Regions from separate parts of the Homo sapiens genome. Here region 2 is linked to region 1. A link means that fine-mapping ties the variant in region 1 to the expression of a gene that starts in the linked region. Tissue or cell type: breast. Region 1 holds a variant in brackets; the other region holds the start of a gene. All regions are shown on one strand. Distances are between the middles of the regions.

Region 1 (8,129 bases):
GGCTGTGGTTTTGGGGATTAGGATGTGGACATATTTGAGGGTCATTATTCTATTACAGTAGCACTGGGGTGGTGGAGCCCAGGAAATTACCCTTTTAACAGTCATTCCAGCTGATTCTAATGAAAACAATCATGACAACACAATTTGAGAAACACTCCTTTGGTTATTTACGCATAACAGCTATATTTATTCAACTTTGGAATTCAAACAAACACAGAGGTGGTTTAAGACTTTTTAAACAGAAGATTTAGTACAAAGAGAAAAGTAAAATCAGACTCTGATAAACACGGTTATCTACAAAGACCTGTTTACACAGAAAGAAGAGACACTGGCCGATTTCTTGATCTTTCCCTGTTTTATTCTGAAAACAGCCTGAAAACCAAATATTAGGAATAACACCTATAATATAACTTAAGTTATGACATTAAATTTTACTTGGTTTTAAAAGTATACTTGGCTAAAAGTTCTTTATTGCTTGGTCCATTTTATACAGACACACACACACACACACACACACTATATATATATAAAACATTCAAACAACATCCTAATCCTAAAGCACTCTTTTCTTTCTTTTTCCAGTTTTTTTTTTTTTTTTTGAGATGGAGTCTTGCCCTGTCCCAGGCTGTAGTGCAGTGGCTTGATCTCGGCTCACTGCAACCTCTGCCTCCCGGGTTCAAGCTATTCTCCTGCCTCAGCCTCCTGAGTGGCTGGGATTACAGGTACCTGCTACCATACCCAGCTAATTTTTGTATTTTTAGTAGAGATGGGGTTTCACCATGTTGGCCAGGCTGGTCTCAAACTCCTGACCTCATGATCCACCCGCCTCAGCCTTCCAAAGTTCTGGGATTACAGGCGTGAGCCACCCCGCCCGGCCTAAAGCACTCTTTTCTATCTCTCCAAACCAGCAACTAAGCTGAACTATGCTAGGAATAGTCTATATTTCCTTTACTTTTCTTATTGAAAAGATTCAGTTTGCTGAGATTTATATTATATATAAGAATAAATTCAGCTATTTTATTAAGTACTTAAGTCTAGCTTAAAAGTATTTTGAAACATCATCTACTTTTGCATAGCCTTTTTATTGGTTTATTGCTCATAAATCATATTTTCTCAAAGCTCAAGAAAAATTACTTCAAAAAATCTGGATTCTGGGCATGGTGGCTCATGCCTGTAATCCCAGCACTTTGGGAGGCCGAGGCTGGTGGATCACTTGAGGTCAGGAGTTTGAGACCAGCTTGGCCAACATGGTGAAACTCCGTCTCTTCTAAAAATACAACAATTAGGCCAGGCGCGGTGGCTCACACCTATAATCCCAGCACTTTGGGAGGCCGAGTTCGGTGGATCATGACGTCAGGAGTTTGAGACCAGCCTGGCCAAGATGGGGAAACCCCATCTCTACTAAAAATACAAAAATTATCCAGGCGCGATGGCGGGCACCTGTAACCCCACCTACAGGGAGACTGAGGCAGGAGAATCGCTTGAACCTGGGAGGCGGAGGTTGCAGTGAGCCGAGATCACGCCACTGCATTCTAGCCTGAACGACAGAGCAAGACTCTGTCTCAAAAAAACAAAAACAAAAAACACAAATTTAAATTTAGCCAGGCATTGTGGTGGGCACCTGTAATCCCAGCTACTCGGGAGGCTGAGGCAGGAGAATCGCTTGAACCCGGGAGGTGAAGGTTGCAGTGAGCCGAGATTGCGCCACTGCACTCCAACCTGGGTGACAGGGCAAGACTCCGTCTCAAGAAAAAAAAAAAAAAAAAAAAATTGAAAAATGGGTTTCATCAGTTTAGTTCCTCCTGTTCTTTAAATCATAAAATATTTAAACCTAACTGTATGCTTTATTTTTTAAAAGTACTTTTTAGAGCTCAAGTTTAGCAGAGCTATTTACAGTATTATTGTGAGAGAATAGAGAAGAAAGAACTTTAGAGAATGATTAAAATTTTAATCAGTGAACAAATGAATTAAACCAATATTTAGTCAAATCCAACTAACCTGAAATGTTAACTCAATTGAACTCTCATAACAATTCATAAATAAAGTATGATTATCCCTTATTTCTTAGAGAGGAAACAGGCTGTGTTGAGTGATTTCGCCCAGGCTTCATAGCTGTTAAGCAGTGAAGTTAAGTAACTATTCAAACTTGAGTCTCTGACTCAAAGGTAAATGCTCTTCATAGTATAATCAGGCTTCTATATGCTTAACTCATTCGGCTTATTATTATTATTTTTTTTTGGTAGGGAGACACTCACTAACCCACAAGGGTAGAAGGCAGGCATGAGGTGGGGAAAGGTTGACCAGTGTTGGCCCTGGAGGTAGAAGGCAATGTCTTCCAGGGTTGGCTTGATTACATGTTGAACCAAAGAGCTGATTTCTGCAATTTAGTAATCAGTCAAGGGTTAGTATTAGAGTGTGTCTTTGTTTTGTGTTACTGTAACATAATACTGGAAACAATAATTTACAAAGAATAGAGATTTAATTCTCACTATTCTGGAGGCTACGAAGTTCATGATTAAGGCACTGGTATCTAGTGAGGGTCTTCTTTCTGTATCTTAACATCGTAGAAGGCTTAGGGCACAAGAAGGATGAATTTCCTCCATCAAACCCCTTTATAATGGCATTCATCCATTCATAACGGTGAAACCCTTATGACATAAATACTTCCCCCAAAGCCCCACCTCCTAATACTGCTAGATTGGGGATTAAGTTTCCAACATGAATTTAGGGGGATATATTAGACCATAGCAGGGTGTCTAGTCCATAATTTCAAATAATTCAGTATCCTTCAAGTCACTGAAATGAAATGTCCTCTATATGTAGTAATTATTTTTCCATATGAAATCATTTTGGGTAATCAGATAATTCAGTTGTTGAGACATATTTTTATTCTATCTCATCATTGAAGAGCTTGCACTACTCTCAGCTGTACAACATGGAGCCAAGCAGAGGCCAGACCCTGAGAGCATAGAGTGTGAATGTTTTTCTATACCTGATCATAGCCTGGTCAGTAATCATCACCCCACCACAATGAGATCCCTGGACATGGGTCACCAATGCTAGATGCTTTGAAAGACAAAAATCAATTAATATAAGACCTAACTCCTAACAAAAGATACGGATAATCACAAGTCAGATGGCTTTGATTCCTAAATTCATCTCGGGTTGTAATTAAAAGACTTTTAAATTAGCACTAAATTATTCAAATCAAGTAATTAATCTGGTTTTTTAGACTTGAAATTCAATCAGCATTTCCTATGAAATTTAAAATTAAAAACTTTTTTTTTTGAGGTGGAGTCTTGCTCTGTCACCCAGTTGGAGTGCAGTGGCGTGATCTCGGCTCACTGCATGCTCAGCCTCCTGGGTTCACGCCATTCTCCTGCCTCAGCCTCCCAAGTAGCTGGGACTACAAGGCGCCTGCCACCACGCCCAGCTAATTTTATTTTTTGTATTTTTAATAGAGACAGGGTTTCACCGTGTTAGCCAAGATGGTCTCGATCTCCTTACTTCGTGATCCGCCTGCCTGGGCCTCCCAAAGTGCTGGGATTACAGGCATGAGCCACTGCGCCCAGCCAAAAA[C/T]ATTTTTAATAGAAATTTAAATATAACTACCAGTAAAATGTTGTATGACTCAGTTTACTACTCCATGTGATACCACTGAGCAGTGTTTCCAGAAATGTGTCACCACTGGCAATACCTGAGATAACATTAGGAAGCATGAGACATGATTTCATGTTCATGGATATGGCATTAATTAGCATTGAATCACATAACGACAAAGTTATTTCCTCCTAAACAACATTTAATCTTTGTGATTATCTCAAGGAGGACCTCTCAGTTTGGTGTTGTCTCTAAATTTCTCTAATTTTTCATTTTGCCAAGGTAGAGCAGACCCCTGTAAAAAGTTTTCATCAGGAAATATACTACTAGAATATATTACCATGTTTTATTATTTTTACTCTGTCGTGTTTATATTTACTGTTACTTTCCATTCATGGCAAATAATTTGGTTTTTCTATTTGCGGTAGTGATATAAAATTTTTCTTGAGGTGTCTGGAAAGATGGCTGAATAGGAACAGCTCTGCTCTGCAGCTCCCAGCGAGATCAACGCAGAAGGAGATAATTTCTGCATTTCCAACTAAAGTACCCAGCTCATCTCATTGGGACTGGTTAGACAGTGGGTGCAGCCCACAGAAGGCAAGCAGAAGCAGGGTGGGGTGTTGCCTCACCCGGGAAGCGCAAGGGGTCAGGGAACTCCCTCCCCTAGCCAAGGGAAGCTGTGAGGGACTGTGCCGTGAGGAACGGGGCATTCCGGCACAGATACTATGCTTTCCCCACGGTCTTTGCAACCCACAGACCAGGAGATTCCCTTGGGTGCCTGCACCACCAGGGCCCTGGGTTTCAAGCAAAAAACTGGGCAGCCATTTGGGCAGACACTGAGCTAGCAGCAGGAGTTTTTTTCATACCCTAGTAGCCCCTAGAATGCCAGCGAGACAGAACTGTTCACTCCCCTGGAAAGGGGCACTGAAGCCAGGGAGCCAAGTGGTCTAGCTCAGCAGATCCCACCCCCACGGAGCCCAACAAGCTAAGACCCACTGGGTTGAAATTCTCGCTGCCAGCACAGCAGTCTGATGTCCACCTGGAATGCTTGAGCTTGGTGCAGGGAGGGGCGTCTGCCATTACTGAGGCTTGATTAGGCAGTTTCCCCCTCACAGTGTAAACAAAGCTGCTGGGAAGTTTGAACTGGGTGGAGCCCACTGCAGCTCGGCAAAGTTGCTGTAGCAAGAGTGTCTCTCTAGATTCCTCCTCTCTGAGCAGGGCATCTCTGAAACAAAGGCAGCAGCCCCAGTCAGGGACTTATAGATAAAACTCCCATCTCCCTGGGACAGAGCACCTGGGGGAAGGGGCAGCTGTGGGCACAGCTTCAGGACACTTAAACGTTCCTGCCTGCTGGCTCTGAAGAGAGCAGCAGATCTCCCAGCACAGTGCTCAAGTTCTGCTAAGGGACAGACTGCCTCCTCAAGTGGGTCCCTGACCCCTGTGCCTCCGGAGTGGGAGAGACCTTCCAGCAGGGGTCAACAGACATCTGGTGGGTGCCCGTCTGAGACGAAGCTTCCAGAGGAAGGAACAGGCAGCAATCTGTGCTGTTCTGTAGCCTGCGCTGGTGATACCCAGGTAAACAGGGTCTGGAGTGGATCTCCAACAAACTCCAGCAGACCTGCAGCAGAGGGGCCTGACTGTTATAAGGAAAACTAACAAACAGAAAGGAATAGCGTCAACATCAACAAAAAGGACATCCACACAAAAACCCCATCCGAAGGTCACCAGCATCAAAGACCAAAGGTAGATAAATCCATGAAGATGAGGAAAAACCAGTGCAAAAAGGCTGAAAATTCCAAAAACCAGAACACCTTTTCTCCTGCAAAGGATCACAACTCCTTGCCAGCAAGAGAACAAAACTGGATGGAGAATGAGTTTGACGAATTTACAGAAGGAGGCTTCAGAAGGTGGGTAATAACAAACTCCTCTGAGCTAAAGGAGCATGTTCTAACCCAATGCAAGGAAGCTAAAAATGAAAAAAGGCTGGAGGAATTGCTAACTAGAATAACCACTTTAGAGAAGAACATAAATGATCTGATGGAGCTGAAAAACACAGCACGAGACCTTCGTGAAGCATACAGAAGTATCAATAGCTGAATCGATCAAGCAGAAGAAAGGATATCAGAGATTGAAGATCAACTTAATGACATAAAGTGTGACGTCAAGATTAGAGAAAAAAAGAATGAAAAGGAACGAACAAAGCCTCCAAGAAATATGGGACTATGTGAAAAGACCAAACCTATGTTTAATTGATGTACCTGAAAGTGCTGGGGAGAATAGAACCAAGTTTGAAAACACTCTTAGGATATTATCCAGGAGAACTTCCCCAACCTAGCAAGACAGGCCAATATTCAAATCAGTAAATACAGAGAACACCACAAAGATACTCCTCGAGAAGAGCAACCCCAAGACACATAATCATCAGATTCACCAAGGATGAAATGAAGAAAAAAATGTTAAGGGCAGCCAGAGAGAAAGGTCGGTTTACTCACAAAGGGAAGCCCATTAAACTAATAGCAGATTTGTCTGCTGAAACCCTACAAGCCAGAATAGAGTGGGGGGCCAATATTTAACATTCTTAAAGAAAAGAATTTTCAGCCCAGAATTTCATATCCAGCCAAACTAAGCTTCATTAGCAAAGAAGAAATAAAATCCTGAGAGACAAGCAAATGCTGAGCGATTTTGTCACCACCAGGCCTGCCTTACAAGAGCTCCAGAAGGCAGCACTAAACACATAAAGGAAAAACCAGTACCAGCCACTGCAAAAACATAACAAACTATAAAGACCACCGACACTATGAAGAAACTGCATCAACTAACAGGCAAAATAACCAACTAGCATCATAATGACAGGATCAGATTAACACATAACAATATTAACCTTAAATGCAAACGGGCTAAATGCCACAATTAAAAGACACAGACTGGCAAATTGGATAGAGTCAAAATCCATCATTGTGCTGTATTCAGGAGACCCATCTCACGTGCAAAGACACACATAGGCTCAAAATAAAGGGATGGAGGAATATTTACCAAGCAAATGGAAAGGAAAAGAAAAAAAGCAGGGGTTGCAATCCTAGTCTCTCATAAAACAGACTTTAAACCAACAAAGATAAAAAAAGACAAAGAAGGGCATTACATAATGGTAAAGGGATGAATGCAACAAGCAGAGCTAACTATTCTACATATATATGCACCCAATACAGGAGCACCCAGATTCATAAAGCAAGTTCTTAGAGACCTACAAAGAGACTTAGACTCTCACACAATAATAATGGGAGACTTTGACACTCCACTGTCAATATTAGACAGAACAATGAGACAGAAAATTAACAAGAATATTCAGGACTTAAACTCAGCTCTGGACCAAGCAGACCTACAGAACTCAGAACTTGAACTCAGCTTTGGACCAAGCAGACATCTACACAACTCTCCACTTCAAATCAACAGAATATACATTCTTAGCAGCACCACATCGCACTTATTCTAAAATTGACCACATAATTGGAAGTAAAACACTACACACCGAATGCAAAAGAACGGAAATCACAACAGTCTCTCAGACCACAGTGCAATCAAATTAGAACTCAGGATTAAGAAACTTACTCAAAACCGCACAACTACATGGAAACTGAACAACCTGCTCCTGAATGACTACTGGGTAAATAACGAAATTAAGGCAGAAATAAATAAGTTTTTTGAAACCAATGAGAACAAAGACACAATGTACCAGAATCTGTGGGACACAGCTAAAGCAATGTTTGGAGAGAAATGTATAGCACTAAATGCCCACAGGAGAAAGCAGGAAAGATCTAAAGTCAACACCCTAACATCACAATTAAAAGAACTAGAGAAGCAAGAGCAAACAAATTCAAAAGCTACCAGAAGACAAGAAATAACTAAGATCAGAGCAGAACTGAAGGAGATAGAGACATGAAAAACCCTTCAAAAAAATCAATGAATCCAGGACCTGGTTTTTTGAAGAGATTAACAAAATAGATAGATCACTAGCCAGAATAATAAAAAAGAAAAGAAAGAAGAATCAAATAGACACAATAAAAAATGATAAAGAGGATATCACCATTGATCCCACAGAAAAACAACCTACCATCAGAGAATACTATAAACACCTCTATGCAAATAAACTAGAAAATCTAGAAGAAATGGACAAATTCCTGGACACATACACCCTTCCAAGGCTAAACCAGGAAGAAGTCAAATCCCTGAATAGACCAATAATAAATTCTGAAATTGAGGCACAAAAAAATAAAATTTCAGGCCAATATCCCTCATAAAGATCGATGCAAAAATCTTCATTAAAATACTGGCAAACAGAATCCAGCAGCACATCAAAAAGCTTATCCACCACGATCAAGTTGACTTCATCCCTGGGATGCAAGGCTGGTTCAACATATGCAAAATAATAAACATAATCCATCACATAAACAGAACCAATGACAAAAACCACATGATTGATTATCTCAAGAGATGCAGAAAAGGCCTTTGATAAAATTCAACACCCCTTCATGCTA
Region 2 (8,129 bases), 49 kb before region 1:
AAAAAAAAAAGAAGTCTACTAAAAACAGTTTTTTTTAACTACAATATCCTAAATATACCTAATTTAGTTATAAACTAGCATAAGACTAGATTCTTTCAGTATGAAAAGTTGCATTGTTTTTCATAACCATTGTACCAAGCATGCTATTAGCATTTAATAAAAATTGAACTATTTTTTTCAAAAGCAGTGCTGTAATATTGTTTTTTTGTTTGTTTGTTTGTTTTGAGACGGGGTTAAGCTCTTATTGCCCAGGCTGGAGTGCAATGGCAGGATCTCGGCTCACTGCAACCTTCGCCTCCCGGGTTCAAGCGATTCTCCTGCCTCAGCCTCCTAAGAAGCTGGGATTACAGGCACCCGCCACCACGCCAGGCTAATTTCGTATTTTTAGTAGAGACGGGGTTTCTCCATCTCGGTCAGGCTGGTCTCAAACTCCGGACTTCAGGTGATCCACCCGCCTCGGCCTCCCGAAGTGCTGGGATTACAGGCGTGAGCCACCGCGCCCAGCAAAATTGGAATTAACACTCCCAGAATACTCCCAGGGACTCTGCATTACAAAGACATTAAAATATGAACCAAACTCTGACGAAAGACTTGAATCCTTTATTGAGGAATATAAAAAGTGGAATACTACATCCCGTTGGCTGGCATAAATATGACTAACTTTACTTTTCCCCTTTAAGTATCAAAAGATGTAGCCTTAAGTCAAAAATGGATTAGGGTAACAGAATCTTTTCCTAATTAGTTTCAGAACTTTCTAAATGCTCCAAAGAAGCTTATCCAAAAAAAAAAAAAAAAAAAAAAAAAAAAAAAAAAAAAGGCCGGGCACCGTGGCTTACGGCTGTAATCCCACCACTTTGGGAGGCTGAGGCCGGCGGATCACCTGAGGTCAGGAGTTCGACATCAGTTTGGCCATATGGCGAAATTTCGTCTCTATTAAAAATACAAAAATTAGCCAGACATGGTGGCATGCGCCTGTAATCCCAGCTACTAGAGAGGCTGAAGCAGGAGAATCTCTTGAACCCGGGAGGCGGAGGTTGCAGTGAGCCGAGATCACGCCACTGCACTCCAGCCTGGGCAACAAGGCGAGACTCCATCTCTGGGGTGGGGGGAAGGAAAAAAAAAAAAACCTCTGAATTGTCCAGAGTGACTGTCAACATATGAACCAAATCTTTTTTTCTTGATATTCAACAAAGTTGTCAAAATTCTTTTTTTTTTTTTTTTGAGACAGAGTCTCGCTCTGTCACCCAGGCTGGAGTGCAGCGGCACGATCTCGGCTCACTGCAACCTCCGCCTCCTGGGTTCAAGCGATTCTTCTGCCTCAGCCTCCCAAGTAGCTAGGATTATAGGCGCGTGCCACCGCGTCCGGCTTATTTTTGTATTTTTAGTAGAGACAGGGTTTCACCAGGTTGGCCAGGTTGGTCTCGAACTCCTGACCTCAGGTGATCCGCCCACCTCAGCCTCTCAAAGTGCTGGGATTACAGGTGTGAGCCACTGCGCCCGGCCGGTTGTTAAAATTCTAAGGGTCAATTAAGGGTTATATGAGAAATCTATAACAAGTTTTGCCTAATAACACTTCCCATCTCAACATTTTCATCAAGGTCCACCTTTAAGAATAAACACCTAAGTTCAATTAAGACAAGTGAGGAGGAGGTATTAACTTACATTTTAAAAAAGTCATTGTCCTGTATATTTTACAGACTGTAAAACTTAATTTTTAAATAGAATACTATACTGGCCACCAACAAAAAATGTTTAAGGGAAGCTCTATTGATTTTGTTTTGCCTCACTGTTGTACTTCCAAAGTCTCCACTATAAAAGCAGTGCGTTAATATTAAGTGGCAAGCCTATGGAAGAAGATACATTGTTGGAATATAGGCTCTTAATCACACCTATAATACACAGGATTCCTTTCCTTTCTCTCTGACCCAAGTTCTCATTAAGTGACCCAAAGACTCTTCTGCATCACTATGCTTTCTCTAATCAGAAGCTGGGCTGTGCACTGAAATAAAAACATTCTAACCAATACATTTTTCAAATTATTACTATAGTACTCGTTTAAACACCTGTATTCAAAGCTTCTCACTAATCATCTAGCTTTATCAAGTAACACACACAAGTTAATATACACTATGACTGCCTTGGTAGCCGCAGTTTGACTAAATTCTGGGACACCACCTCAACTTGGAAGGGACAGAACTATATCCGGTTCTCATTAGATACACATTTTCTCATGCTTTCCATCTTAAAGACTTTACACTTTCCCAGAGGAGCAATAAATGTAGGAAGACGCCAGGTAGTATGCCTGTAAGGAAGATAAGTGATCAGATTAAATTCCTACCCAAGAAACCTGAAACTTCAAAAACTTTTCCTAACAAACCACAGATGAAAAGGACAAAGTATGATTTACCCCTTCATTTCCACTTCTTTTCTGGAGCCAGCTTCCCAAATTCCTGAACAGCAGTCTTAACTTACTGGTTAGTTGGAGGAGCGGTCAACGGTATGGCCACCTCTTCCTCCTCGTATTCTGGTCCATCCAGAGAGTCACCTTCGTCCACTGTCCCGAGGCCCGCCCCCAAAGGGGGCAGGTAAGGGGGAGGGGGCAGAGGGGGAAAACCGCCGCCTGGCCCGAGAGTCTCAGCAAGCAACGAAGTGGGCAGTTTGGTGAGAGCCATGTCTCCACTAGGTCCAGCAACAGCAGCACCGGCCACGCCAGCAGCAGCACCAGCTACGCCAGCAGCAGTACCTCCCCCTGTCAGTCCAGCTCCCCCCAGTGCCCCTGCCACAGACCCGGCTCCTAGGAACTCTGACCCCAAAGCGGCTCCGCCACCCAGAGTTCCAGCCACTCCGGTCTCCACCAGCCCAGGATAGGGGGCGGCTGCCACAGGCAGGGCCGCGGGTATCTTCACCCGACACACTGCGGGATAGGCACTGGAGCCCGCTGCCGCGCCGCCTCCTCCAGCTCCGGCTGTTACCGGGCCGCCCTCCTCACTGCCGGCCTCGGCCGCCATCATGTTGAAGCCCGCTCTACTCTGCCCTACCCTGCCCGCCCGGGAGCCCCAGGGGCCACCAGGCCCGGGCTCCGAGCAGCCCCACCCAGACGCGTCTCCCCTTCAGCTCCCCAGGCTGAGGAAACAACAACAAAAGGAGAGAGCCCGCCGCCGCGCCCCCTCCTAGGGCCACAGCCCAGGCTCCCCAGCTGCCTGGGTTACGGGAAGCCAAGTGGGCAAAAAACCCAACGCCTGCACAAACGCCACCCAAACCTCACCGCACACACCCACACTCACGCACACAAACACATGTACAGAAGCGAAAACTTCCTCGCTGCACTAAAGAGGAAAGGAAGCACAGGGAAAGAGGCTGAGGCTGCTACCGCTCCTTCAGCCGCCACCACCGCTTCTTCACCACCCCAGTTCCGGCCACCCACACCGCAGCCACCGCCGGTGCCGCTGCTGAGGCTGGGGCCACTGCAGCCGCTTCATCCTCCACCAGGCAGATGAGAGGGGTGGGGGGGCAAGAGAAAGGGGGGCGGGGTAACGAGGAAATCGACTGAACTGCTCACTACCTGGAGCTCTCAGTGAGTGAAACGGGAGAGAGAGAAAGGAAGGCGGGGCAGGGGAGGAGGGACGGAGGGAAGGAAGGGCGGAGAAGGGAGAGGGCAGCTTGTGCGCAGGCGCGTTCCCGGAGCGGGGGCGGGGGGCCGGGCCGGGAGGAAAAGGAAGAGTCCAGAGGGAAGGAAGCGGCGGGGACGCGCGGTGCGTGGTCGCGCTTGCTGTCCTCCTCCGGTTCCAAGCGTGTGGCGGCGCGGCCGCATCTCCTGTTGGCGTGGCCGGCGGCGCGCGCCTGTCTCCCGGGGCTTTGTTTGATGGGCGGGAGAAGAGGGAAGGGTACCTGAGCACGCGGGTGCTTGGCGCTGTTAAAGCCGGAGAGACCAGAGGGGGACCAGGAGGCGGTGGAGAGGAAGGAGGGGGAAAGGGAAAGGAAAATGCCCAGAAACTAGTTCCGTACTTCCTGACCAGTGGAAAAAACAGCCTTAACCAGCAGCGCAGAAACCGGGCAGGGGTCAGGTAGCTTTGAAGATCGGGGCAGTACTATTAATGTTTTCTTTTTCGTTGCATGCTATAAATCACTATGACTATCTCACACACACACAGTTAAAATAGATTCTGAAACTCCAAAACGAAATAAAGGGCACCATATGAGAAGGGTGAAGAATTTGAGTAGAAATAGTGGTTATGAAGTAAGATTTCTACCAGTATTTGCATACGTTTTTCTTTATCAACTGTCTCATATACTTACCTATGCCATTATAAGTCTGTTGGATACTGATGAAGAGGAGGAGGTGCCACAGAAAACACTAATCAATGCACTTTTGTCCTGGTTTGTGTGCAAAAGACTGCAGGACGTGATCCACAATGCAAGCACCTTCAACAAGTCAAATGTCAAGAATGTCCCAGAATGCTAGTTATAATTATATATCGTTTCAAAAGTAGCAATAAACTGAAAACTCATTTTTAATACAATTAAGGAGAAGGGTGTTATTTTGTCTTTTACACTAAAATGTATACAAACTATGCATTCATGTAGAGGGAGCTTCCCATGGTTTGAAATTAACAATATTGTTAAATTCTCCCAGGAGTGATCCCACATTAAATACCATTGGATATTGATCTTTGAGATCAATATTTTCTGTGCTAAGGATGATCAAACTAACACTCAGGATGGCAAGTGGCTGTGATAGAAACCCAGGAAAAAGAGAAAAGACCACTAAAAGACGTGACAAGATACAGGCAATGCATTGCCTTTGTAAGTTTGCACAGGCCTATTTACCTAGTCAATGACAACAATCCAACTTGATTAGGAGTAGTCCTGGGGCCTCCATTACGCATATCTCTTAGCAGTGTGCTACCTGGGAGAAGGAAGATGGACCAGTCACAGGAGCTAGAGTTCTCAAAGTGAATTCAGGCCGCAACATCCTAGGAATTCAGAAATGCCACCTCAGACCTTCTGAATCAGAAAATATGCAGCGATCCATTTTAACAAACCCTCCAAGTGATTGTTTGCACACTTAAGTTTGAGAACCACTATATTAATGTATAGTATACTAATCAAGAAGGAGGTATGCAATACCTAAAAACGGTTCTGAAAGAAATAATAAATGTCATTCATTAGGTGGGTAGGTAAAATAGGCGGGTTTTGAGTTGCCAAGCTCTGTGCTGTTCTAGAAATGAGAATGAAGTAGTTCCATAATACTTAATAATGAAGTACTACTTATGGTGGCCTCCCTGAGAACAGTTTTCTTTTAAACTTAGACCCTCAGTTAGACAAGACTATCAAAATACCTACTCTACTTACTGTCTGCTGTGTGAACACCAAGTGCAACAATCCCAACAAATCTTAATATAGCCTGTGCTTGAAAACCTCCAGTGTGTTAGCATCCCAATCCTCCAACATTCCTGTCCCAGTCACCACTGTCAGCCCTTGAATGCAGGACATTGAACTGGCAGGTTATCACCGGCTCTTGGTTATCACTGATTTCTAAATGTTCACACACCCTCTGTATGTTGCCTGGGAGTCCAGGTGAGGCTCACTACTCTTACTGCAGAATTACCTCCTCCTTTTTGACAATTCTTTAGCACTTGTAAAGGTCAATATTTAATGCAGTCTAACACCTATCAAATGCTCAATTAAATGTTTTCTAGACTTTTAGGTGTATGTACCTACAAAACTGTACTGCAAATACAACCTGTGGTCTATTCTACTGCCTAGCCCAGTCCTAGGCAACCTCAGTATGCTACTTTGAACAGATCTTCATCCTTTTAACAAATACCAAATTTGATCAGCTCCCATCTTTGGAAATCAATTTCTTAACCAGTAGGAAATAACTACTATGTCTATTTGTAAATCAGCCTTATACCAATATCTTACCTAGTTTTTGTTTAGCCTTAGAGTTAGCCCTGTTCTTTTCCTCCAAAGAAATTGCCACATATTTTTATGAGGTATTTTCAGATATTTAATATATTCCTATTATTGGATAGATCTAGGCTCTAATCTTTACTATTGCTTGTGTACTTTCTGAATCTCAAATACGTTGTCTATCTTTATTTTCATTTTTTCCAAAAGGATTTAATGTTTCTACTTAATTTTTGTCCATTGCCTTTCTTTTCTACCCACCTTAACTTTCTGCCCAGTTAACAAAGGGAAGTAAACTATCTTAATTAAATTCACAGATATTAAACAGGGAGGTATTGAAAAACAGAATAGTACACAAAAGAAAGAAAATTCAAAATATATTTTACCTTTAGTAAAATAAGCTATTATATCTGTGATTTTAGAAAAGTTACTCTGGATCTTGAAACATAGTATTTAATGAAGACTAAATAATAAAAAGTGCTGGACAAAAACTTGTGTATGAAAAGAAACTGAAAATTTAAGAAATGAAGTTGGCTCATTCTGGTTTCATTGGCAACTGAAATATGAATGTGGCCGGGTGCGGTGGCTCACGCCTGTAATCCTAGCACTTTGGAAGGCCGAGGCGGGCAGATCACAAGGTCAGGAGATCGAGACAATCCTGGCTAACACTCCAGCCTGGGTGACAGAGCAAGACTCTGTCTCAAAAAAAAAAAAAAGAAAAAGAAATATGAATGTACTACGTTCCAAAATATTTTATAGTTTTGATATCTTGAGTATGTGGAAAGGTAATTCTAACTCAGTAACATAACTGTAATTTTAGAGGACCTTAGAGCATAGGTAAGAATAGTTTCTGATGGGAGGACTAACCAAGAAGTAATAAAGAGCTTACTGCTGTGTTTGAAGAATGCCAAATTGTGTTCCATGCCCTAGTACATATTGAGTTACACAAATAGCCTTCCAAATTTACCTAAATAGTATCAAAAGGTTTCATTGACCCAATAATTTTGAAAGAAAGCCTTTACTTCTAACCCTAATGTCCCCACTGCATTTATTGACTTTATCTTAAAACCCTCCAGAGCACAAATTTTTTTATTACAAAGATCTTATGAGAAAATAACATCGAGGAGATACAGGTTAAAGGAAATACTTTGATGAAAAGGCAAATAACTCTGCAGAGATTACAATATGTGGTATAATAACTAAGATTTATGAAAATTATAAATACCATAGAGAAATTGAAGAACTGTGTGATGATCTCTGAGGCTGTAAAATAAATTACAAGGTAAATTATCCAGAGCTCTCTCAAAACATTCAAACCAATATATGAGTAAAGAAGATTAGAACAGTTAGATCTAAATATCTCTTAAAATATAAAATAATAGAAAAATATATTTTTTTTTTTTACTTTATTCCTATTTTGTCTTTATATTGCAGATACTTCATTATTTTTTGTCAGAACCTTTCCTCCTTCATGATTTCTAGTCTCTTTTTCTTTACCTATTATTTTACTCTGACCAGGCACATTTATGTATTTTCCTTTCTTTGCCTGGCTCCTATATATGATAGTACCTCATGGTAGAAGTAAAGGAGAAAAGGGAACGGAATGGTTTCAAGGCAAAGAATGTGGGAGAGTCGGGTGGGTAGGACTTTGCCATATTTCCCTCATTATTACACTCCCATTTTTCACAGATAATATTTTTTGAATATGCCAGCAACAATTTAAATAGCACCTGAAGCACAGTCATGAAATCCAACTAAGCTTTGGTCTTTTCACCTCAAGAATCCTGCAGTCTCTAATTCAAGTTACATTCTTTGGTCTACCTGAGAGTCTTCCAGGAATGCTTTCACTTGCAAATTCAGTTAGTATGGCAATACACACCGCTCTTTAAAGTAACTATACAATGAAAGGGCTAAGTGGAGCCTTGAGTCAGATAATTATCATAAATAAGGTGAGAGCTTTAACTACTGCAAATGCACTGTAAGTAGTGTAACTTTACTCAACTAAAAACAGCTTTCTATTTCTAACTATAATTATTTCTCAATCCGCGTGCTCTTTTGAAGACTTTTCAACTTCACTTGTTATCTTACTAGAACTCTTATTTTTCAACTTCCTATTCACTGTTTATCGAATAGTTTTTAAAAAGCAATGAAATATGACATGTAAATATAATGGTATGTATCAGTGATGTTCAGACTTCTGGGTTTCATAGACTACTAAA

Evidence for each region. PIP is the estimated chance that this variant, and not a neighbour inherited with it, causes the effect.
Region 2: it holds the start of RASA1, and the variant in region 1 is fine-mapped to the expression of RASA1 in breast (GTEx, PIP 0.90).

Annotation. Positions count from the first base shown.
Region 1 is chr5:87,214,247-87,222,375 of GRCh38, reverse strand. It overlaps LINC01949 (long intergenic non-protein coding RNA 1949), which reads left to right. Exons shown (of 3, transcript NR_130914.1): 3 at 4,047-6,641. All of the region lies in intron 2 of LOC101929380 (a long non-coding RNA gene), which reads right to left. Among named protein-coding and RNA genes, the nearest start is that of LINC01949, 21 kb to the left of the region's middle. The variant C/T (reference allele first, on the strand shown) is at 3,580.
Region 2 is chr5:87,263,334-87,271,462 of GRCh38, reverse strand. RASA1 (RAS p21 protein activator 1) reads right to left here and starts at 3,580. Exons shown (of 25, transcript NM_002890.3): 1 at 2,473-3,580. The coding sequence starts at 3,011. RefSeq lists enhancers at 2,809-2,858, 2,616-3,503, 3,557-3,851 and silencers at 3,039-3,218, 3,559-3,808.